Linked DNA regions of Homo sapiens: region 1 is linked to region 2. The links come from fine-mapping of genetic effects on gene expression. A gene starts in region 2. The other region holds a variant in brackets. All regions are shown on one strand. Distances are from middle to middle.

The links.
Region 1: its variant is fine-mapped to the expression of KIAA1549 in fibroblasts (GTEx, PIP 0.93).

The regions. Positions count from the first base shown.
Region 1 is chr7:138,885,976-138,898,387 of GRCh38, reverse strand. It overlaps KIAA1549, which reads left to right. Exons shown (of 20, transcript NM_001164665.2): 10 at 3,862-4,046. Among named protein-coding and RNA genes, the nearest start is that of KIAA1549, 89 kb to the left of the region's middle. The variant A/G (reference allele first, on the strand shown) is at 7,187.
Region 2 is chr7:138,973,473-138,985,884 of GRCh38, reverse strand. It overlaps KIAA1549, which reads left to right and starts at 4,496. Exons shown (of 20, transcript NM_001164665.2): 1 at 4,496-4,802. The coding sequence starts at 4,616. RefSeq lists enhancers at 3,719-4,068, 4,691-5,577, 10,818-11,318, 11,319-11,819 and silencers at 4,049-4,178, 4,199-4,578, 4,619-4,748, 5,588-5,882.

The DNA.
Region 1 (12,412 bases), 87 kb after region 2:
ACTCCTGCCTGCCTGGCCCTGGCTGCTGTCAGTAGTTTCCTTTCCACCTCACAGATTTGTTTGCTTTTTTTTTTTTTTTTTTGAGATGGAGTCTCACTCTGTCACCAGGCTGGAGTGCAGTGGTGTGATCTCGGCTCACTGCAACCTCTGCCTCCCGGGTTCAAGTGATTCTCCTGCCTCAGCCTCCCAAGTAGCTGGGACTACAGGAGCACACCACCATGCCCAGCTAATTTTTGTATTATTAGTGGAGACGGGGTTTCACCATGTTGGCCCGGATGGTCTCGATCTCTTGACCTTGTGATCTGCCTGCCTTGGCCTCCCAAAGTGCTGGGATTACTGCAGGTGTGAGCCACTGCACCCGGCCCCACCTCACAGATTTTGAGTATTTAAAATTGAAGAAAAAGGAGGCACATGGAAGAGTGTATTTTTCTAAATAGTCCTTTACGGTGTGAATCAGATTCCTCTTTTTTTTTTTTTTTTTTTTTTTTTTTTTTTGAGAAAGGGTCTTGCTCTGTCACCCAGGCTGGAGTGCAGTGGCTTGATCGTAGCTCACTGCAGCCTCAAACTCCTGGGCTCAGGTGATCCTCCTGCCTCAGCCTCCTGAGTAGCTAGGACCACAGTCACCACCACTACACCCAGCGATTTTTTCTTATTATCTGTAGAGACAGGGTCTTGCCATGTTGCCTAGGCTGGTCTTGAACCCCTGGCTCAAGCAATCCTCCCACCTTGACCTCCCAAGGTGTTGGAATCCCAACCATGAGCCACCACACCTCTTTTAATGTCAGTGTTTTTCCTTTGTGATCCTGCAAGCAGTCTTGGTAAGAGAATGGTGAAACTTGCTCCCAGCAATAAAAGGAGAGGTAAATGTTTAGAGGGAATTCAGCATCAGAGAATACAGAAAAATCTTTATGGAGAACATGTAGGAGATAAAGACAATTTTTAAAAAATGATAGCTTTTAAATTATCCTTGATAGTAGAAGGTTTTTATGAAATCTGTACTTGTCCCTGGAGACCAACCAAGATGAGAGCTGATGGGCATAATTTCTCTATTTTATGGAAGATGATGGGAGGGTTTAAGCAAATAACCATTGGCAATTTGTGTTTGTGTATGTGAGATATGATCACATATTGATGTGTTCTCCTCCAAAGCAGTGAGCAAAAAATAGCAAAAGCACTTCGTTACAGTTCTTCATATATGCGATTCCTGATTGTAGGAGACGTGCCCTACTCCAGCCAAGCACTTGACATTTTAAACAGCTAATTGCAATAGAATATGGGCACCTTTCAGATGTGATCTTGCACCTCTTTTCCTCAGTTTTGTACCGAAAACCACGTGGGTAAAGATCCTGGGATCTCAGGGATGGCGATTGAAGGAAGCCTCAGCCAACACCAGGGATAGCCCAAAGGCAGCCCCAGGACACTGGTGTCAGGGTCCAGTTTGATCAACCTCTGCCTCATCAGGGTTTTCCTAGGTTAGAGTAAGAAGAGGGCAGGTGTGGTGGCTCACACCTGTAATCTCAGCACTTTGGGAGATAGAGGCAGGAGGATCAGTTGAGCTCAGGAGTTCAAGACCAGCCTGGGAAACATAGCAAGACCCCATCTCTACAAATAATAATAATAATAAGCTAGCTGGGCATGGTGGGGCATGCCTGTGGTCCCAGTTACTTGGGGGGTCTGAGGCAGGAGGATCACCTGAGCCCAGGAGGTCGCGGCTGCAAGTGAGCTTGATTGTGCCACCACATTCTAGCCTGAGTGATAGAGTGAGACCCTATCTCAAAAAGAAAAAAAAAAAACAACCACACCCACAAAAGAACTAAGAAGAGTGTCCAGTTGTCTCAGCTTCTCAGTTTGATTCTGTCCGTACTTCTATATTGTCCGTTGCTTTTATGCAAAATGAGCTACATATATTAACTATATTCAGCCCAAATTAAAAAACACAAGTTTTTCACTTTGTTGCTTTTTACCACATCCCATGCAGCCTGTGCTCTAATCTGTGCTTTTTTCCCTGGTGCATTTGATTTAGAATGCTTGCTCCCTCCCTTGCCACTCCCTTAGGTGTCTAAACCCAAAGTTAAACCAGCACCAAGAACCCTTTTTGTTATTACGTCTTTGAGCAGATACCTTTTGATCCCATAGCAGGTGTTAACCATCATAGGGTATGAAAGGAGCATAAGACTTAGTCCCTGCCCATGAAAACTAAGATGTTTTTGAAAAGACAAGATTTGGCGTCAAGACCGGATGAATGAGTGCAGAAGCGTAGCACTTCACGGATTATCCATTTATATAACAGGAAGCATTTTAAATGAGCAGTAAGGCACCATGTGCAAAACAAAGAGCTAGTGAAGGACATGAAGTGGCCGAGGAGTTGAAGTGCAACTGTCCTATGCCGTGAAAGAGAAGTGGGGGCCGGGTGGGGTGGGTGTGGCAGCAGGGTGGGGAGTGGTGGATCCAAAATGAGTAAGATATGCTTCGTGTAAAAGTGGACAACTGGTAGCTTAAATAATGCCGTTTCGATGAGTCATGTTTCAAAGGTTTAGGGAGAGACACAGGTGGGGCAATGAAGGCAGTGCCTATGGGACGCTTATTAGGACTTCAGTTTCCAAATTAACACAGTGAAGCTTCATTTTGGAAAACATAAGGATCATCTTCCTTCTTTTTTTATTGCAGTAAAATATACATCAAGAAATGTACCAATTTAACACTTTTAAATGTATACTTCAGTGGCATTCAGTACGTTCACAAGGCTGTGTAACCATCACCACTATCCATTTCCAGAATTTCTTCATCATTCCAAGCAGAAGCTTTCTATGAGTTTTTTTCTAGATACCTCATGTAGGTAGAATCATACATTTTGTCCTTTTGTGACTGGCTTGTTCCATTATCATGATGTTTTCAAGGTTCATCTGTGCAGCAGCATGTATAGAATTTCCTTCCCTTTTAAAGCTGAATGATATTCCATTGTATGGCTATACTACATTTTGTTCATTCATTCATCTGTGGATGGGCATTTGAGTTCTTTTCATCTTTTAGGCTGTCGTGAATAGCGCTGCTACGAACATCAGCATCTCTTTGTCATTTTTCATTGCTGAAGGGGAAACGACCAGTTGCACTGGTGCACATGTCGTATCTCCTTACTCTGTTTTGCTTTGTGTTTGGCACTAGTGCAATATGAAATTATTCGGTGATTCATTTACTTGATCATTTCTCCTTTCCCCCACTAGGACTTAAGCACCTCAAGGGATTTCGCTTGTTCATGGTTGAGTCCCAGCTTACAAACTGTGTCCAGCACACTTAATAAACATTTGTGAACATGAGAAACTTGGAGTAGTGAGGGAAGGGAGAAAGAGATGAAGGGTTTTCTTCCATAAACTCCTAGTTGAGATGCATGTGCTTTATGTGATCTAGGAGGGTGTGAGTCCTGCGGTACTTGATGGAGCGGGCAGGATTATGTTCTGGAGACACAGCTGTTTTTCTCTCCACTTTTGAAGAGAACTGCCTTTGTACAAAGTTGTGCAGAACCAGTTTTGGTGTGGAAATATCCTGCAGTGATAAGTTACGGGTGAGCTAGTAGAATAAACTGGAAATCAGGAGACCTGGAATTAACTGAGCTTTGCCATTAATTCAGCCATGTACCTTTGGATATATCCATATGTCGTTGTGATCCCTGATGTATTCTAGATGTAACATTGTATGTTGTGTTTCTCTGCTGGTCACATTTCCTGTCATCAGGAGATTAGAACCTGGAACCAGCTATCTTGAGCTGGAATGTCAGGGACTTCTGAGTTTCTCATAGAAGACACGTGCAATCTAGTGCATGAGTGAAGAAGGAATTATTGAAAGACCTTTCTTCCTTGTCTGCAGCTGTCGACAGGGTGAAGAGGCCGTCTCCGGAATCCCAGAGCAACAACTTGTGGGTCATTGTTGGCGTGGTCATCCCAGTGCTGGTGGTGATGGTGATTGTTGTCATCCTCTACTGGAAACTATGCCGCACAGACAAGCTAGACTTTCAGCCTGACACTGTGGCCAACATTCAGCAGCGTCAGAAGGTAACGGGCAGCCTCTTCCCCCAGTGTTCCTATAAGCAGTTTTGTGGGGCAGGGATAGGATGAGTTTGGGCTCTTGATACTGAAAGATGAGGAAGAGGGAGGGCTATTATGGAAATCTTCTGGCTTTAATAGTGGTATCACTTTGCCTTTGTTTCTGCTTCCTGAAACCCTCCTTCTGTGGTAGTAAATACAGTCCAAGAATGTGAAACTGTATAAAAGCCTAGCCATGACATGCCCTCCGGGTTCTACTATGATTTTATTTTGTATTTTTTGAGACAGAGTCTGGCTCTGTCACCCAGGCTGGAGTGCAGTGGCGTGAGCTTGGCTCACTGCAGCCTCCGCCTCCTGGGTTCAAGCGATTCTCCTGCCTCGGTCTCCGAATAGCTGAGATTACAGGCGTGTGCCACCACACCTGGCCAGTGTTTGTATTTTTAGTAGAGACAGGGTTTTGCCATGTTGGCGAGGCTGGTCTCGAACTCCTGGCCTCAAAAGATCTGCCTGCCTTGGCCTCCCGAAGTGCTGGGATTACAGGCATGAGCCACCGCACCAGGCCGAATTCTGATTTATTTTATCCCTGGATATTTTCAGAGGATAGGAGCCAAGGCAGACTTTCTCAGATCTGTTTATCTATTTTGTGTACAACTCCATTGGTCAGTTGCTTTATTTTCTGTTCACCCTATTTGGAAGCCCACTTACCCACCTTGATCATTAAAAACGAACAATACATACCTTGAACATTTTAACTTAAAATATATGAATGGACATTTATTTGCCAATCCTTCAACATATCCCAAGTCTTGTTTTGTTTTGAGTGTTGGTCTACTGAGAGGAATTGTGTTTGGTCTTTCTTACAATAAACAACACCCATGACGTGTCAGTTTCAGGTTCCAGTTTGGGTTTCTTTAGAGAAGAGCAAAGCTACCTGAATGCAAAGTTCTCTCGATTTTTAATACCTCCCCCCACTCCCTATCTTAGAGAAGAGCAAAGCTACCTGAATGCAAAGTTCTCTCGATTTTTTTAATACCTCCCCCCACTCCCTATCTCCTAATTTTGCAGACTTTTGAGTTAATTCACTCACACCTAATTTGACAGCAGATTTTTTAAGTAACCCCTCTTTCCTATGTCTTTCCAAAGCATTCAACTTAAGTGTTTATAGAAATAGCAATTTTCTTTTCCAACGTATGTTTCAACAGTTTCCATAGTATTCGAGGGTCACATCAGGTTTCAGAGCAAAGACATTGACTTTTGGTCAACATTGAGCTCACCTGGTGTGAGCAAAAACATGCCAGGCCTAGAGGAGCACTCACTAGTACAGCATAAGTATCAGTCAGCGTGTTTACCAAGGGAGTGGAACGTGGTAGTCAGTCCACTGTTACTAACAGTCTGCTGGATTAACATGCACTTTCCGTGGGTCTCCCAGATTTGGAGGACTCATCCTGCTTTAAAAGCTTGATAAAAACAAGCAAAAGTCAAAAAACAAAGAATAAAAGATTGCCCTATTTATTTTTAAACTTTATTTTGGTTGTCTTGGGTATGAAAAATTCTGCATATTACAAACCTAGACCTGTCGAATGGAAAAAAAATATGCATTACTTTAAAATTTATTTTACTTTTGTAAAAGCAAAGAAAGAGTATTTGTCTTTTCATATGAATTAACAAAAAAATGCAAAGTATTTATTAAATTGCAAGCTTATGGCTATCAAGTACATGAAAAGCATTTTATACATTAATGTTATGTTTGTTGCCTATCTTTGTTTATTATTTACACAGTCTGCTAAGGTTCTTTTGTTGTTCTTGTTATACTGGTGAATGGCATGGGGAAACCTGGAAAAAAAGTGCTGGGTATACTAAATGATTCATAGTGTGAATTTCACTGTAATAAGATCAACAATAGGTTTGGAAATGTTTTTGTTCTGTTGAAGAGTGTTGTTACAGAGGGAGTTAACCAGTGTAGACGGTTATGTATTTAGGTCTTTTATGGGCCACATTTCCTAACGTATACACTGCCATGGAAGTCCATCTATTATCTGTAACTTCAGTAAATTATCAGAGCACAGCGTCTCTTGGGGTCAAAATGGAATATTCCCCAAGCTTTCTCCTTCTCTCACTTTTACTTCCTAAACATTTTCAAGTCCCAGATGTGGCTGTAAATCAAATGGACAGAGTTTCAGATGGAACTTCCAGCCCTTAGAGCTGCTCTTTTTCCTTCAGGGCTGCAAAGACCTGCCCATACATCCTGACAACAGGTTTACAGAAAAGGTCCTGCAGGGAGGATTCCCCAAAAGAATAACTGTCTTCTGACACTGTTAGGAGGGCAAAGCCTTGCCAGTGTTGCAGAAGCTCAGTCGTGTTTTGCTGGCACAGGAACCCACCCTATAGATTTTGTCGTGTGTTTAAAATGGGAAAATGATCTCTTCATTTAGTTTAAAAACAAATGTCTTTAGTTCATACGTGTTTCTTTTAAGGTCATGTGGCCATAGCAAAGGGCCTCTAGCCTCGTCCTCAGGGTAATGTGCAGAGATGTCACCCTCCCCTATGACTTCAAGAGCTCTGTCTCCTGCTCATGTGGCTGTTGTCTCTCTCTCCGTTCTGCTCTCCCCACCTCCTGATGCGCCTCACCATACTCTCGGAAATCCTTCAGCAAATCCCAGAGCTGCAAACATCTGGAAACAATAAATCTGCTGACCTAAAATCTGCACCCCCCTTCCCCTCGTAACGAGAAGGAAACCTCTTCAGATTGTCTGGGAGTAGATTAATTTTGAAATATGATAGGAGGGAGAGGCCATTCTGTCTTGTTTTGAGGCACAGCCTTTGCTTATTTTCAGTAATAAAGAAGAAAACCCCATGCTTTCTTTTATCTGTATTCTCTATCTGTAGACTCAAGTCATCATTTGTTACTGTTGCCTAAAAAACTCCAGCCCGGATCCTCTTCATCATGAATGGCATTGGCTGGATGCCACTGGCCTCATGGAAACTTATTCCTTCTGATGGGGGATAGTCCACACCTCGTTACTGGTGTCAGACCAGAGCTCCTGACTGCCCTTGGTTGCTTCTAAAGGGCAGCACTTTGGGCAACCGGCTGGAGCTGCCTCAGGCACTGGGTGTCACTCACCAAACATTGAGCATTTGCTGTGAGCCAC[A/G]CCAGATCCGGCTCAGTTACCAACACAAATAGCACGCGATCTCTGCATTCCAGGGCTTTAGCAAGGGAGAAGGACGAGCCATCCGAAAGCAGACATCCAGGAGTATAAGGATGTCTGGAGAACACAGAGGAGGGGGGCACCCCATTTGCAGTGGTGGGGTACTTCTACCTTCTTCAAGGAGGTGACACCAGGGCTGAAGCTTCACGGTGGAGATGAAGGCGGGCCCAGTGGGGGAGCGGAGGGCAGCTCAGGAAGCTAGAGCAAAGGTCATAAAAAAGGGCACAGCCGAAAGCCAGGTGGCAGAGAGCCAGGCCCTGGGGGGTTTTCAGGACATAGAAGGGATTGCAAATTATGCTGTAAGCAGTGGGCAAGCATTGAAAGGTTTTCAGCAGGGAGAGCAGCTTGAACACATTTGCTTTTGGAACGATCCCTTTGGGAGGCAGTATGGACAGTGAATTGAAAAGAGGCTCTGTGAGCATATCGTTCCATCTCAGCCAAGGTCAGCTCATTCCCTATGGTTGCTGTTTGATTCTCTGCAAAGGTCGCCTGTCACACCTAACGTGTAGGTGGTCTCAGTTCACCCACAGCTGGCTGACCGTGCCGGGTGTCACCTGTGGGTGGGAGAATCTGGGAGCCCTGCTCTCCCAAACTCCGGGACCACAGGGTTACGGGAGTGCCCGTGTGGGGCTGCACTGAAGACAAACAGATGGCAATAACTTTGCCTTGTCTCCACTTCCTAAATGGAAGCAGCATGGTGGTTGTGGTGACGTTTCACAAATGACATCAATCAGGTAATAAATGCTTTCAATGGCACTCGCTACATGATGGCAAATTTTTGTTCAGACACTTTTGGGATTTGCTCTGTGTTTCTATTGTCATCTCAACTCCTTCCCAGGGGCTCAGGCTAACCCGAATACTGTGGGCTTCACTGCGTTTTGTGCCACCTGGGCTGTACTGTATTTATGGCCCACGTGTTCACATTCATCAGGCGTCTCTCTCATTACTTGGCTGACCTGCCCACCAGTCAGTCTCCTGGGCTTGTTGGTGACGTATTCCGGTGGGGCACAGACACTGTGGCCTGTTCCCTCTGTGATATGTTAAAGAGAGAAAGAACAAAAGAGCCATCCTTCTTCAGAAATAACTCGGTCCTAATATGAATATTGAACACTCTCATTAATCTTGATTCTTCTTTTATAAAATACTGATTAAACCTATGCTGCATGTGGGAGGGAGCTGGAGACATTGTATACCAGCCAGACTGAACTCTAGGTTCTATTTTAAAAGAAGTGGAGAAACTAGAAAAAGTGATCTGGCAAGTAGAGATGAGACAAAAGAAGGTAATTATCTAAGGGAGGAGGGGCAGTGTTCCCTCTAGGTTTTCCTTCTGTGTGTAGATGGCTTTTGTTTTGTGCATAATACGCACAGACTGGTTGCCAAATTTCTATTGGTATAGAAGGTGATGACTCACTCAGTTTGTGAGAAGTGCAAGGATCTAATGGATGTATTTAAAGACTTTGGTCAGAATCAACAGTAAGCCAAGAGGACTTGTATATTTCATTTATGACACGTGCCGTTTTCTTGGTTACCCAGAAAAAAACCAGTCAGTTTGGTACTTCAGTTGAGCGTTTTGAAATTCATCTGGTCATCAGCTATTTCTTGAGGGACCCTGTGTCGCATCTTGTTGTTGACTTAACAAAATATTGTATCTAAATTCTTATTTATAACTCTGATGCCTTAGAATTCTTAGCTGTATATTAACTGCTCGATGTTTCATCAATCAACAGTAATAATAATGCTGTCAGCATCATTTGTAGGGTACTTTGGCATTTATGAAGCATTTTCATGAATACTGTCATGTTTCTTTCCTACATGGGCCCTGAGTGTACGTGAGGGAAGACATTTAGGTGCCTAGGCTTGGGCTACGTAGACCGCCCTATAGAGGCAATACTGTTTGTATTTTTACGTTGTTGACTTTGGAGACCTCCACTTAGGGGAGGCCATCTGTAGCTCCTTTTCCAGTTTTGGTAAAGCAAACCACCTAATTTGTTAAAAACAAAACAAAACAGTTGCCCAGTCATTAGAGGCATTCACTTTCTTAATGGGAAGTATACCAAAAAGGATTTCAGCAAGGTTTATTAAATGATGGAGGTGATGATTAAATGACTGTTTAGTATATCTGTTTTCTTTCGCTTAGAGGCACCTTGTATGTAGTTAAATGAAGTGCTGCTGGGGTAAAAGCAACCCCATAAAATTGGAAATCGCTCCTGTTAGGATTTTTATCATCAGCTGTGAATAAGTGGCATCCAATATCAATTTTCTCAGGCATCTGAAAAAGGCTTGACAGATGGACATTTGAGAATTATATAGATGGATTAGTATTTCATTTCAAGATGAAAATAATATTTATAATTATATATTTCATAAATTAGGACCGCATGTCAAAGTCTGAGAAAGGAATCATCTTAATCACACAGAATGGATTTTTTAATGTGCAGGAGGGTTACCTCTTAGCCTGCCTAATTTTTCATCTGCCCATACATACATCAATGATTTGCTTTCAAGAGAGCAGTTGAATCTTTGTGGAAATTTACAACAAAAGGAAAAAATATTCGACTAGTAAGTGTGGGGTTTAGAAAAGACACATAGATGATTGCTGTTAAGTACATTATGGTAGAATCCAAACGTGTTGCTGTGTAGTTGATCTAAATCCAGTAAGTACACAGGGACAACAAATAAACCAGCAGAGAAAGGGGTCATGGACCAGTGAACAAGTGACTTGCATTCAAGCAACCTGGACACAGATGTGCAGTATCCAGTAATCAATCATTTGAAAGAAGTGAACGAAAGTATCCTGCAAGTCTGAGTAATTGTGCGGGAAAGTATACAGTATTAACTCAGCTCTCCCTTATTTGTTCTTTTGAAGTTGTAATTTTGATCTTTCGGAAGTAAACATGGACCTTTTCACCCCTTTTTCCTTTTAATACAAAATATGTTGTTAAGACCCCAACTGAGTCCCCGTGGACAAGGGTGCCTGCCAGGCTTTCATTCCTGAGGATGGTGAGCTCACGGAAAGCATATGCATTGTGGCACCTTGGGTTTCCCACATGCTGCTGAACAGATCTTGAAGATTACAGTTGTCACATAGACAGATAAAGCACAGAGCCCTGCCATGAGTTTGTCCCCTGGATGAAATGAGACAATGCCCTTGGCATTTCTCACTGCCGTCCTCTTCCCTGTTCTCCTTGTATTCTTCTGCGGGAGTGAACTGTTCTTCAATGGCTGGGAGATGGTCGAGGGGAAGCTATGAAATAAAAACCTCACTGCTGCTGCTGCTGCTGCTGCCACCTCCTCTACAGAATATCTAAGTTCACAGTTTCCCAACGTGGAACGAATTGTCCTATTTCATGGCTGTATTTCTCTCTCAGTTCTTTAAGAGAGAAAGCAAACCATACCACAAATTTATTGTGCCTTGATTGACCAAGACCAGCATTTTGAATTGTGATTTTATTTGATGTTCCCGAGGTTTCTACATCTCTGGGCAGAGCACCGCAGGAAGCTGCTGCATGGATGACAGGCGGGCCTCTCTTCTGTAAAGTGGGAGGACTTGGGAAAGGGAAGGTGGGAGGGGGAGCCAGCATGCTGCCCGGACCACAGGCACATGCTGGACAGCTCTCAGGAAAATCACTAGTGTAGGGAGGACTTGTACAGAGGTGTGCATCTGGAATGATCCCTGTAAAAGGGCTGCCTGCTCCTAGAAAACTGTGTGTCTGCTCCCCGGGGTTTGGGTAGACCAGTTGAAACTCAGGGTGCTAGTCCATGGGTCACAGATGAGAAAATAAACGCATTTTATTTAAATACGTTTTAAATACATGTGTTTAAAGAAACATCTAATGATGAATTTATTTTATGTAAATAAATATTTAATAATTAATTTAAATAATTTACACAAGTGCTTAATAAATTTACTTTAAATAAATATTTAATAATAAATAGGCCAGGCGTGGTGGCTCATGCCTGTAATGCCAGCACTTTGGGAGGCTGAAGCAGGCGGATAACCTAAGGTCAGGAGTTTGAGACCAGCCTGGCCAACATGGTGAAACCCCATCTGTAATAAAAAAATATGTACATAAAAGTTAGCCAGACGTGGTGGTGCACGCCTGTAGTCCCAGCTAGTTGGGAGGCTGAGGCAGGAGAATTGCTTGAACCCAGGAGGTGGAGGTTGCAGTAAGCCGACATCATACCATTGTATTCCAGCCTGGGCAACAGAGTGAGACTCCATCTCAAAAAAAAATCATAATAAATACATTTACTTAAATAAATCATAATAAATACATTTATTTAAATAAATAATAATGGGCATGCAGTGGAACAACAGGTTTGGGTTTGTCATTTGCAAAAGGCTGAGGGGCTGTTATGCTCATGAACTGCTGAAGTGGTGGAGTGGTGTACTCCTGTAACAGGAGCTCTTTAATCAGAAAACAGGAAGTCAGCTTTTGCCTTTTGTTTCATTTTTGTAAATTGTGTTTACTGTAAGTTTTGTCCCCCTCTGCTGGCATAAATCATTATTGCAGATGACATTCCTTCTACCCATTGATCCGAGAATTTCAGCTTATAAAAGATCTTAAGGCCGGTCTCAGTGGCTCACGTCTGTAGTCCCAGCGCTTTGGGAAGCTGAGGCAGGAGGATTGCTTGAGCCCTGCAGTTCCAGATCAGCTGGGCAATGTAGCAAGATCCTGTCTCTACAAAAAAATTTTAAAATATTAGCCAGGCGTGATGGCACATGTCTGTGGTCCCAGCTCCTTGGGAGGCTCAGGTGGGAGGATTGCTTGGTCTTGGGAGATTGAGGCTGCAGTGAGCTGAGATTGTGCTACTGCACTCCAGCCTGGGTGACAGAGCGAGACCACATCAAATGAAAAAAAAAGACCTTAGGTCACAGACCTAAGCCACTGATGTTGTCACTCATTTGTGCATAAAGTTAGCACAAATAAGACAAAGCCTTTTGTTTCTGTGTGTAATATATTGTCTAAAATCACTCCTTAGATCTGTTTGGCCTTTGTCTTTTGACTGACAGGACTCTGTAGGGGTGTGTGTGTGAGTGGAAAAACTCGAACCATGTTTCTCCTCTGCTCTCACACCACACAACAGTCAACACAGGAGACTTCTGTGACCGAATTTGGGGGGGGGCTTTCCTCACACACCAAGCAGCAGTTATCAGCTGGGTGTCCT
Region 2 (12,412 bases):
ATATGATTTCTACTTCTTTGAACTTTTTTTTATAACTTCCTTCGGACATCTGTCATGTTCTACTTTGCAATATGTAGGTTTTTAAAATTTGTTTTTTTTTTTCCCGTAAGACTGTAAGCTCCTTGAAAAAACTGTAGACAATTATTATTTTTTTTTTTTTTGAGGCAGGGTCTAGCTCTGTTGCCCAGGCTGAAGTGCACTGGCATGATCACGGCTCACTGCAGCCTTGACCTCCTCAGGCTCAGGTGATCCTCCCACCTCAGCCTCTCGGGTGGCTGGGACTACAGGTGCACGCCACCATGCCTAGCTAATGTTTTGGATTTCTTCATAGAGATGGGAGTCTCACCATGTCGCCCAGGCTGGTCTCAAACTCCTGGGCTCAAGCAATCCACCTGCCTCAGCCTCCCAAAGTGCTAGAATTACAGACGTGAGCCACTGTGCCCGGCCTAATTAATCTTACTGATCATTTAGCACATGACTCTACGGGGCGCTTACTTAGTAGGGACTCAGTAAATATTTTTTGAATGTTTATTCTGGCTACTTCTCCACTTTGCACAGTTGTTCCCTCTGCCTGACACCCTCTTCCCCAGCTATCCCCATGGCCCAATGTCACCTTAGTAGGGTGATCATCCCTGACTATTCTATTTAACACAGTAACACTGACCCTTCCCTCACTCCTTTTCCCTCTTTGTTATTCTGCAAATTGTTGTCATCAGCCGAAGGCTCACTTACTGATTGCCTGTCTCCTCTCACTAGAACATAAGTTCCACGAGGAAGGGCCTTTGTTTTGTTCACCGTTATACCTCCAGTGCCCACTGCACTGCCTGGCATATGGTACATGCTCAAAAAATATTCATTGAATTTAATGAATGACCTTTGTGAACATTCATCTTATTTTGTATAATTCTCTTAAGAACCGAACCCACAGCTAAGCAAGGTAGGCATGTGAAGCCCATCATCAGATAAGAACATTTGAGGTTTGAGAGTAGGGTGAAGCATTTTGTTCAAGTTCATAAACTTTTCTGTGACAGAGCAGAACGCAGAACTCAGCTGTCCTGATTCCTATTCTAGGACTCTCACACTACCCTCTACCGACTTCCAGCCATCCTCTAACTTCAGTCCCTCTGTCCCATCCTTATCCAGACCCTAAGAATTGAGGGGCCCAGGTCAAGAGTGCAAATAGGGGCTCACGCAGCCCATTTCACATTTGGCCATTTTGGCCATTTCACATCGATGACCAGATTTTCATCAGCAAGTTACATGCCAAGCAAGCAAACTATTAAATATGTCTGTTCTACCTTAACAAACGTATGTCTTCAGAATGGTTAGGCTGGTTCACAGGCAGGATTCGCAGACTTCCTGCAGTTGTGAGCAGAACATCGCAGCCAGGTTGCCATGTGAATATGGGCCATGCCCGATCTTCTCTTCCCATCCCTGGTCCTCTGCTTCATTCCTATAGGTTTCATGTGCGCATCTTTAGAGATGCCTCCTGCGTAAGTTTTGCCACTCCCTAGCAAACAACTACCCCGTGGGACCAGACACACCCTTGGTGCAGCCTTGGGAGAATGGACTTGAGGAAGAGGCCACATAGGCCTGAAGATGAGCCTGGGGTGAAATGGGCAGGATTCTGGGGTCCTGGGCACCTGAGCATGGGAAGATGGGCTGCTGGTGAGGGTGCTTCCTGGGCTTCACAGACTCTGTCCTGAGGAGAGAGGTGCAGTTTGAGAAGGCCAGAGTGGGGCCCGCTTCGTCTAGGTCTAAGGATAGTACTGAGCCTACCTCTCCCTGTCTCCAAACCAGATTGTAAGCCTATCGAGGACCCAGGTTAATTTTCCCCCTCCCCTGGAGGGTGTGTGGTTTAACTGGAGACGACAATTCCAGTTGGAGTTGAGCCTTATGGAAATAAACTAACCTCTCTGGCTTGTTTCTTTATCTATGAGAATTGGATGAGATGATCTCTAAAATCGATTTTAAAATCTTACACACACACACACATTTGCACACACTCCCCTACCTCCAAGGACCACTCATCCCCTCTGAGTCTGCAGAGTAACACCACCTACCAGCTGGACTGTCAGAGCCTGGTAGACATTTTCCCAGACATGGAGGCAGAATGCCTTAAATCCTAACAGAGGTAAGATTTTGTTTTATGCCTTCAGAGCTGGGAGACTAAGGGACCCTAGGGACCTCACTTTCCACGGACACTTTGGTGTCCATGAGTCATTTCTAGTATCTCAGGGTTCCAATTTTTATTTTTACTTCCAGCTGATCAATCTCTTAATGGCAGGGCAAACACTATTGTCTTTGAGTTTGCAGAGAATGGAGAAGGAGACTCCTTTCTTTTTTCTTTTCCTTTTTTTTTTTTTTTTTTTTTTGAGATGGAGTCTTGCTGTGGCACCCAGGCTGGAGTGCAGTGGCGTGATCTTGGTTTACTGTAACCTCCGCCTCCTGGGTTCAAGTGATCCTCCTGCCTCAGCCTCCTGAGTAGCTGGGATTACAAGCACGTGCCACCATGCCTGGGTAAATTTTTCTGTGTTTTTATTAGAGACGGGGTTTGCCATGTTGGCCAGGCTGGTCTTGAACTCCTGACCTCAGGTGATCTGCCTGCCTTGGCCTCCCAAAGTGCTGGGATTATAGGCGTGAGCCACCGCGCATGGCCGAGGGAGGCTTTTTTCTCTGACACCAACGGGTCTAGTGTAGATGGCAGCTTGCAGGAGGCTGAGGCCAAATCTGAAGATGGAACCTCTTCACGGGCGGAATGCATGCTCTGGCTCAAACCAACGATTGTCTACTGAGGGCTTACTGGGGCTATGAGAAATCCTAAGCAGGATAGCACCATATTTGAATTTCATATTAATTTATTGGAGGTGGGGTGGGGGCTGTGTGTGCAAAGCATAAATTCATAAAAGATAAAACAACACAACAGGACAAGACCATTCAAGAGTTGCACGAAGGCAGTGGTTTGTGGTCAAATGTGCTGTTATAGAGAGTTCAGAGAATAAAGATAAGTGTGTGAATAAGAGGTCCCAGATCTATGGCCATGGTGTCCTGGGACCAGACATATCTGGGCAGTTTCTCTTAGGTACTTACCTGGGTGTGCACGCAGAACCCTCTTTGGGAGACAGGAGCAGTTACTGTAATAAACATAGGGGCTGTATGATGGGGGGTTACAATAACGTGTAAAAACACCAGGAACATCAACAAAAGCTTTTTTTAACCTTTATTCTCATTTTCCTTGAAACTACCAGGTTTCAAGTACCCACCTGTAAGGACCAGGTGTGTACCTACAGAAGAGTGCCCCTGTCCTATTCTTAGGAAGAACTATTCGCCAAGGGCAAGGAGTCCAGAAGAGTTGGAGCTGCAAGGCTGGGCAGCCCCTTCAAGGGCTGGGCCTGGCAGGGGAACCCGACTGAATAGCCGCGAGGATCCCTCTGCCAGTGTAATGATTCACCTTTTCCGCTGTCTGCCATAGTTTTTCTGCACGAGATAGTGTCCCCCACACACACCGTTAATATCTGCTTGATGCAACAATGCCAGTGGGATGCAACGATTCAAAACTTCCAATTCCTCCTCCCTAGACCCTGAAGCCACGGGGCGTCTTCAGAGTGACGTGCCTGGCACACAGTAGGTACTTGACAGATGTCAACTCCCTTCTTCCCGTTCCTCATTCCCCCCGCGGACTCCAACCCTCAAACGCTCTCTGGGCATTCTCTCCACCTCTCAGGAGCGCCACTTTCCCTAAAACGGCCTGGCCTTGCGGGTCTCCCCAGCTCCACGCCCATTCGCTTCAGCAGCCGCCTGCTCAAGGCCTGCTAAGTGCAGGGTCCCGCGGGCCTCCCAGGCCCTGAGCGCAGGGTCGCTTCCCGAAGACCCGCAGAGGTGGCCGCACCTTCTTAAGGCAGGAAGGCGGGGGAGAGCTGCGTGCGCTCTGCTCGCCCCTGCCTTGCACGCTGAGCTCTAGCGCAGGAGCCCGACTTTGTCTGGCTTTGTCCCCTCCGCGGCCCCGAGGCTGTCCTGAGAGCGCGGCGCCCCACACACCTGCTGCCCGCAAGGAGTCGGCGGGAGAGGAGGAGCGAGGGAGGCGAGAGGACCCCTCCCCCGGCTTGCCGGCCTACCCTGATCCGGGCGCCCCGGGGAACGCGCGGCGGGACCCGGGGTTGGGTGCGGGTCGGGGCGGCACCGCCCGGCCCAGGCCCCCCGAGCCCCTCGCGCTCCCTCCGGAAGGCGGGTCCTGGGGGAGGGCTGGGCCGCGCCGCCTCGCCGCCCTTGCCGCCTCTGCCGCGCCGAGCCCCGCGCACGCTGCCCCGGCCGCCCCGCAGGCAGGCAGGCAGGCAGGCAGGCAGGCGTCCGGCCGGCCGGGAGGGGGTGCTCGCCGTCCCGCGCCCGGGCCCGCGCGTTGCCGGGCAGCGGCTCCGAGGCTCCGAAGGGGGCGGAGCGGCAAGGCGGGCGTGCGGCTGGCGCCCCTGTCCTCGGTTCCGGCCCGGCCCGCCCCCGCCTCTCCGGCCTCCCTCCGCGCCGGTGCGCGGCGCCCCGTCCCAGCCGCAGCCGCAGCGGCCGCCCCTCCCGGACCCGAGAGCCGCTGAGCCGCGAGGCCGGGCCGGGGCGCCGGCCGGGAATGCCGGGGGCGCGGCGCCGACGCCGAGGCGCGGCCATGGAGGGGAAGCCCCGCGCCGGGGTCGCGCTGGCCCCGGGGCCGAGCGGCCGACGGCCTTCCGCCCGCTGCGCCCGCCGCCGCCGCCCGGGGCTGCTGCTTCCTGGCCTCTGGCTGCTGCTGCTGGCCCGGCCGGCCTCGTGCGCCCCAGGTAAGCTCCGCCGAGACCCTCGGAACGCGGCCGCGACCCCGCCTGCCTTTATCGCTGCTGTTTTCAAAACCCCGGCTTTCCCCGCCCATCCTCTTTTATTCTCCAGCTCCCTCGCCGTCCTTTCTGGAAGATGCTTTGCCATTCTTCTGGGGCCCAACAAATAAAGGCACGGGGGAAATAAATAATTAAAACGAACAAGCGAGCGGCTTCTGGCCGGTCTTGCTAAGGGGTCTGCAAAGCTGTTCTCTTGTCCATGGAACCCGAAGCGGGTCTGGTGGCTTCATCTCAGAATGTGCCTGGTTTTTCCTGCAGAATGCAGGCACCGGCGTGCTTTTTTGTCAAGGCTGTATGATGTGGCATATCGAATGTTTTGAGATACTTTATTGTCGGGGCGAAGAGGTGGATTCGAGGTGTGCTTTAAAAGAGTATTGCATTACCGGGACAAGCCCAGCGTCCCCCAGATGCGGGCAGGCCGGCCGTGTCCCCCCGTACAGCAGGACACAAAGAACATTCAAAGAAAACCTCTTGGAAAGCGCCCTGGCCACGGATCTTTCCAGGGAAATAGCTATTGGTATTACTTCTGCAAGGCATTATTAGTACAATGGAGTGTGAAAATATTTTGATTCTTAAGTGTCTGGGCATGAAAGGAGTAAGGGCTGTTTTTATAACAGATGCAATTTAGTGACTGTTCATCAGTATGGAATGAAGAGGCATGATTTATGAAGAAGCATAAGGGTTTTGTTGTGGAAGAAATGATTTAATTCCTATTGCTTCTCCAAAATGTTTATTTGTCCACCCTGAGCCTGTACACAGGATGGTCTGGAAACCGTCTCTGAGCTGACACTGCAGGCCAGCGATTGCCCCTGCACAGGCACTTGACCACTTTGAGGCGGAAAAGGAAAGGTGGAAGGAGCAGCTAGGGGTGGAGAGCTGCTGCACACAGAACAAAAACCAGAAAGCCGTGAACGCTGCTCCGAATCCTCCTTTCTCGTGGGAGCAGGGCCAAAGGGCTACTCAGTGGCTGGGAGGAATTGGAACACATTTGAAGGTGTCCCTTGGACCTGTGAGAATTATAACCAGTGCCCTAGAGGGGATGGTACAATAGAAGCACAGGGAGGACTTCAGGGATCATGGAACAGGTCCACTCTGCTTACCAAAGAGGAAACTAAGGCAGAGAAGTGCCTTGCTCAAGGTCACAGTCATCACTTTCCCTGCCTCCCACCCCCGCTCTTGGCCCATAGACATATCCACACCTGAAGCCTCTGCAGAGATTTCCCATAGCTGGGTGGAACCAGGGTTGGGGTGACAGAATGAGTCTCTTTTAGGCAGTATACAGCTAGTGCAAACACCTTACTCTAACCTAGGACCTCCCGTCTCAGTCCTGCTCCTGCGAGTTCCAGCCCTGTGTGTCCAGAGGAGAAGAGATCATTGTCAAGGGTCTCTTGGCTTTAGTCAACAAAGAGAGCCCATCTGATACTCGTGGATTCATCTGTCATAAGACACAGCAGATAAATGGTTTCCATCTCCTGAGTGCTTTTTGTGTGCCAGATGTTGAATTTTATATACACGATCCAATCACGTTGTGAGTTAGGCATAGTTATCCCCATTTTACAGATGAGGAAACTAAGGCTTTGAGTTTAGGTTGGTTTGGCTTCAGACTCTATGACATGCTTCCTTTCTGTGCCTGATGGCTTCCCCATATGAATGTGGCCATCTGGGTGTACTGCAGAGGTTGTGGAGAATATAAGTGCTTCTGGTAACTTTAAAATAAATAGTGAAGCTGTTTGCACTGCCCATCCCTAACCTTCTCTTCTTTGGAAGTCCTTTCCTGCTTCCCCTCTACCCCCAATACAAATATTCAACCTGGAGACATGAAATTAATAATATTTCCATTCTAGACCTGACATCATGGAAAGAGACTTCATCCTTTCACTGGTTTGTATATTGGCTTCAGCCGCTGCCAGGCTCATAGACTAGGAACTAAGAAGTGGAGGGCACAGCCCCTGTGCTCCAGGATCCAGCTGGAAACACAGAGCAGTGAAGGAAGTACAAACCCTTGCACAGACCATTCCCGGACAGGAAAGGCAGGATTCCTTATGGATGACCTGCTGGAGGTGACCCCATCTACTTGAAGACTGTGAGGAACGATCTTGGTGGAGGGTGGCTTCCTGATGTAGCTAGGGTGTGTGTAGGGTGCCTGGGCGGTGCTGTTGATCCTGGGAAGAGGGTGCGTTGCAGTTGCTTGGGCTGCCCTCCCAGTCCTGAGTGTGGTATTTTCACCAGGAGATTTGGAATGTAGGAGAGCTTTGCTGAACACTGCTGTGGTGGTTGGTTCTCTTTCTAAGGAATAAGCAGTGGTAGTCAGAAAATGGCATGGCTTAGACCTGTTTTGGACTTCCTATGTGAGGCAGCATTCCCTTCCGTGGCTGTCTGAAAGCTATCTCCTCCTTCAGCTGGCTTCTCTTGTTAACTTTTGTTCAATAGAGTCCACCTTCCAGGTGGTCCCCTTATTACAGTCTTTGGTTAAATCTCTATGTTAAATCGATTTCTTGTCTATTTGTATTTCATTCAGCATTTTGAGTGTGTTTTTTTAAAAAAAAAATTTACAAGTTTGGTCTTAACCATTGACTGTTGTGGAAACAACTTGTAATGCTTTGGACTTACTTTTGAATGCATTGCTCTTAAGTGATTAGCCATCCACAGTATAAAAACAAAGAATCATGCCCAGTTTCTTCACCTTATTCAGAGATAAGTTTTTAAAAAGTAATAGTTATTATGAAATAGATTGCTTTGTAGGGAATTTGGAAATTACTGAAAGGTACAGAAACCAGTCACCCATAATCTCACAGCCTGTAGGTAACACTAAGTAATTTTATCGTTTTTTTGTTGTTAACATTAAAAAAAGAATTATATGCACAATTGTATTTACTACCATTTCCACTCTACATTTAACTTAAGCATTTTTCCATTCATTAAGTCTTATTTGAAAACTATTTTCTATCCTAATGATTTATTCTTTTATTTCCATTTTTTGGGTTGCTGTAAGTAATGCTGATGAATAGCTACATAGAGAAGGCTCTGCTGGCCATGCGCGCTGGCTCACGCCTGTAATCCCAGCACTTTGGGAAGCCGAGGTGGGCGGATCACCTGAGGTCAGGAGTTTGAGACCATCCTGGCCAACATGGTGAAACCCCGTCTCTACTAAAAATACAGAGATTAGCTGGGTGTGGTGGCATGTGCCTGTAATCCCAGCTACTTGGGAGGCTGAGGCAGGAGAATTGCTCGAACCAGGGAGGCAGAGGTTGCAGTGAGCCGAGATGGCGCCATTGTACTCCAGCCTGGACGACAGAGCAAGACTCCGTCTCAAAAAAAAAAGGCTTTGTGCATGTTTCTTTCCGTGTGTGTGTGTGTGTGTGTGTGTGTGTGTTTTCTTGAGTATACATTTGTGGAAGGGGTATTAGAGTGTGATTAAAATGTAAGGCCCACCAGGCTGGATTTCTGCATCTTTTGTTCAAAATGCTGGGCCCCTAGTAGGTACTCAGTATGTGATTTTTGAATGAAGCAATTTTTGAAAGTTATAATGCTGACATAAGCCCTTGAAGCTTACGCAGGGGCCTTCCATTATCACTTGCATTGAGTATTCACTTCATCACTGGCATTGAATGTTACTTTAAAAGCCCTTGTTAAATAAATTTGTAATACATTGTTTTAACCTGCACGGTTTTATTGCTTTAGAATTGAATATTTTTTATTTTGTATTTGTATTCTGTGAATTTTCTCTGTATTTTTATTTATTTACCTGTTGTGGCATAGATATGTATTTAAATCTTTATGTATTAGAAGGATAGCAACCATTTTTCCTTCTATATGTTGCGTTTTCCCCTTCCAAAGGAATTTCTTTTAAATTTTACATAATTTTGAAATGTAGAAGTTTTTGGTTGTTTTGATTAGCAAGATCTGCCATTTGTTCTTTTAATAATTTTTTTATTGCATTTATGCTTATGGTGTGTGAAATTTTTTTCTTAATGTGCTGTTTTATTATTGGCCATTTCTAGGTGAATATTTATGCTTTGTGAGTCGTTTAGGATATTATAAACAAATACTTAAATGTTTCAAAAGTGTGGCCCCTAGGCCTCCTGCATCAACATCATTTGGGGATGTGGGGGTGCTTGTTAAGAATTTAGATGTCTACGACTCACCCTTAGCCTCTAAATTAGACTCTTTGGTGGCAGTGCCTGGGAATCTTCATTTTAACAAGTTGACAGCTCCGTTTTAGCCCCTGAGCATTGGAACCACTGATCCGGATATGGTAAACCCAGTAACTGAAAATTAACAGTATTTTGAAGATATAGTAGTCCCTCCTTATCTGCAAGGGATGTGGTCCAAGACCCCCAGTGGATGCCTGAAACTTTGGGTAGTACTGAAGTCTGTATATACCATGGTTTTTTCCTATATGTACATACCTGCAATAAAGTTTAATTAAAAAATGAGGCACAGTAAGAGATTAACAATAATAACAAAACAGAACAGTTCTAACAGTCTACTGTAATAAAACGTGAATATGCTGTATCTCAAAATACCTCAGAATATCTCAAAATATCTTCAAACTGCAGTTGTCCTCCGGTATCCGAAACCTTGGAGGAGGGGGACTACTGTATACCATTGGTATCTTGCAGTTGTCTTTTCACTGTTAGAACAGCTAATTTAAAATCGTTATGTTGAGGCCGGGCGCGGTGACTCACGCCTGTAATCCCAACACTTTGGGATCACCTGAGGTCAGGAGTTGGAGACCAGCCTGGCCAACATGGTGAAACCCGGTCTCTACTAAAAATACAGAAATTAGCCGGGTGTGGTGGCAGGTGCCTGTAATCCCAGCTACTTGGGAGGGTGAGGCAGGAGAATTGCTTGAACCCGGGAGGCAGAGGTTGCAATGAAATGAGATCGCGCCACTGCACTCCAGCCTGGGTGACAGAGCAAGACTCCATCTCAAAATAAAATAAGATAAAATAAGATAAGGTAAAATAAAATAAGCATTTTTTGTTACATGTTTTTGCTTGGTTTTGTTTGGGTTGGGAGTGAAAGGGTGCAGAGGACTGCATTTTCAATGCTCACTCCTGCCCGTTTGGGAACAGCTGCTGCAGTGCTTGTCAGGAAGTGCCTCACTTAATTCTGAAAACAGAACCCAGCCAGGGAGTTGTTACAAGTCACTAGGGACGTGGGAGCCACAGGTTTTCTATCAGTGCCCTGAATGATAGAGGCAGCTAATTACCGTCATTATAATTACACTAGGTTGATTTTCCCAGATAGGAAGACACTGTTCTAACTGATCTAATTTGTTTTCAAGTTGTGACCACCCACCTTTCATCTGGAGCTCACAATGATGTGATTTCTTTTTCTTGTTGTTAGGCAGCAGGATTTGTTAAAAGGTGAGTTAAAAAACCTGGGTGTGTGCAAATGCAAATCTGCCTGTAACTTTGTGACTATGGACAAGTTACCTTGTCCTGGGTTTCCTCCTCGGTGTAAGAAAGGGTTAATGAGATTAGCGCTAATCTCATTAACCCTCTAGCTCCTTGTAGCTCATTTCTCCCTGTAGCTCCTACATATCAAGTCAACATCTTGGATGTCTTGGAATGCACTTATAAGCAGCATCTGTCCTTTTTCTGTTAGGTTGTTTTGTCATTTCTCCTTGCCTGGTAGATGTTCTAGGCCCATGACCTGCTGAAGGCAGCTCACTCTCACCATTGCAGATGGCTCTTCTTTTTAAAAACTCCCTTTATTCTTCCCTCTTGCATCCACACACTCAAGACCCATACTTTGCTTTCTCTTATTCTTTCTCTTTGTCTCTTTCTTTTTTCCATCTCCTTTGTTAGCTTCAGGCAATTACTTCTCATTAGTGAAATTCTAATCTTGTGGTCCCCACACTCTGAGCATCATCACTGCCTCTTAGCTCGCATCATCACTGCCTCCACTGCCTCGTAGCTTGTTAGAAAATGCAGAATCTCAGGGCCCACCCCCGACCTTCTGAATCAGAATCTGCATTTGACAAGATCCCCCTGGTGATTTTGCATGCACAATTGAGGTTTGGGAAGCACTGGGCTAAGAGGTAAAGTGCCTTCTGTTCTAGCCTTCTGGGAATAGGTATTGTTGGAACATTGAAGGCTAAGTCAGCCTGGACTAACTCTGGAGCTATGTAAATCTCCAGAGACCTTGAGAGACACCTGCTTTTGGGACTGAGTCTGTGTAAATAGTGTGCAAGAACCATATTTTATTTGACCAGGCAACTAGATTAGAATTGTCCCCTAGACCTGCTGTTTTCATTCATTGCGAGCATTTGACTGGTTGTAAAAACACTGAGATACAGTCTGGATGTGGTGGCTCACGCTTATAATCCCAGCACTTTGGGAGGCTGAGGCAGGTGGGTCACCTGAGGCCAGGAGTTCGAGACCAGCCTGGCCAACATAGTGAAACCTCGTCTCTACTAAAAACACAAAAAAATAGCCAGGCATGGTAGTGGGTGCCTGTAATCCCAGCTACTCAGGAGGCTGAGGCTTGAACCCGGGAGGCAAAGGTTGCGGTGAGCTGAGATCGCGCCACTGCACTGCAGTCTGGGCAACAAAATGAGACTCTGTCTCAAAAAACAAAACCAAACCACTGAGATACTACCATAGCAGTTGGTAAATAGCTGCTGTACTGAATATTCCTTGCTCCCCACCCCCAAGTACCCTGAGCCTCCCTGCCCTCTTTCAGGACTCTTCTCCCAAGGACCACCGCCACCCTCCACCTCACCGAGATCCAGTGACTGAAGGGTTAATGCTCAGCACAGCAGGTGCCTCAAGGACTCTGCTTTAGTTTTTTGGCTGAAGACCATTCTGGCAGGTTTGAGGTGCTATCTCATTGTGGTTTTAATTTGCATTTCCCTAATGATTAGGGATGCTGAGCAATTTTTCTTTACCTGTTGACCATTTGTGTGTCTCTTTTGAGAAATGTCTGTTCAGATCCTTTACCTGTAAAATTAGAATAGCTCCCTTTCCGACTGTCAGTGCTCGTGCTCCACTGCTGTTAACTGTGTTGACTATCACCTGTACATTCATTCATTGATTTTTAATCTATCCCAGATCCAGTACTTAGAAAAAAAGTTAGGCTGGGTGCGGTGGCTCACGCCTGTGTTCCTAGCACTTTGGAAGCCCAAGGCGGGAGGATTGCTTGAGCTCAGGAGTTTAAGACCAGCCTGGGTAACATAGTGAGACCTTGTTTCTACAAAAGTACAAAAATTAGTTGGGCATGGTGGCATGCACCTGTAGTCTCAGCTATTCGGGAGGCTGAGGCAGGAGGATTGCTTGAGCCCAGCAGGTTGAGGCTGCAGTGGGCTGGGATTGTGCCACTGCACTCCAGCCTGGGTGATAGAGCAAGAACTTAAAACAAAAAAAAAGCTTGTTAAATGTTGTACTTGATGGTAGTTGAAGTCATAGATATGGAAGACACTAGTGAGGGGGGAGCATGGAGAGTTAGTAGACAAGGCAGCTGAGGACAGAAACCCTGAAACTAGCGTGAAGGAGAGGGGAAGACAAAGAGGAGCATACAGAGGAACTGACCATCATGACAAAATAGTG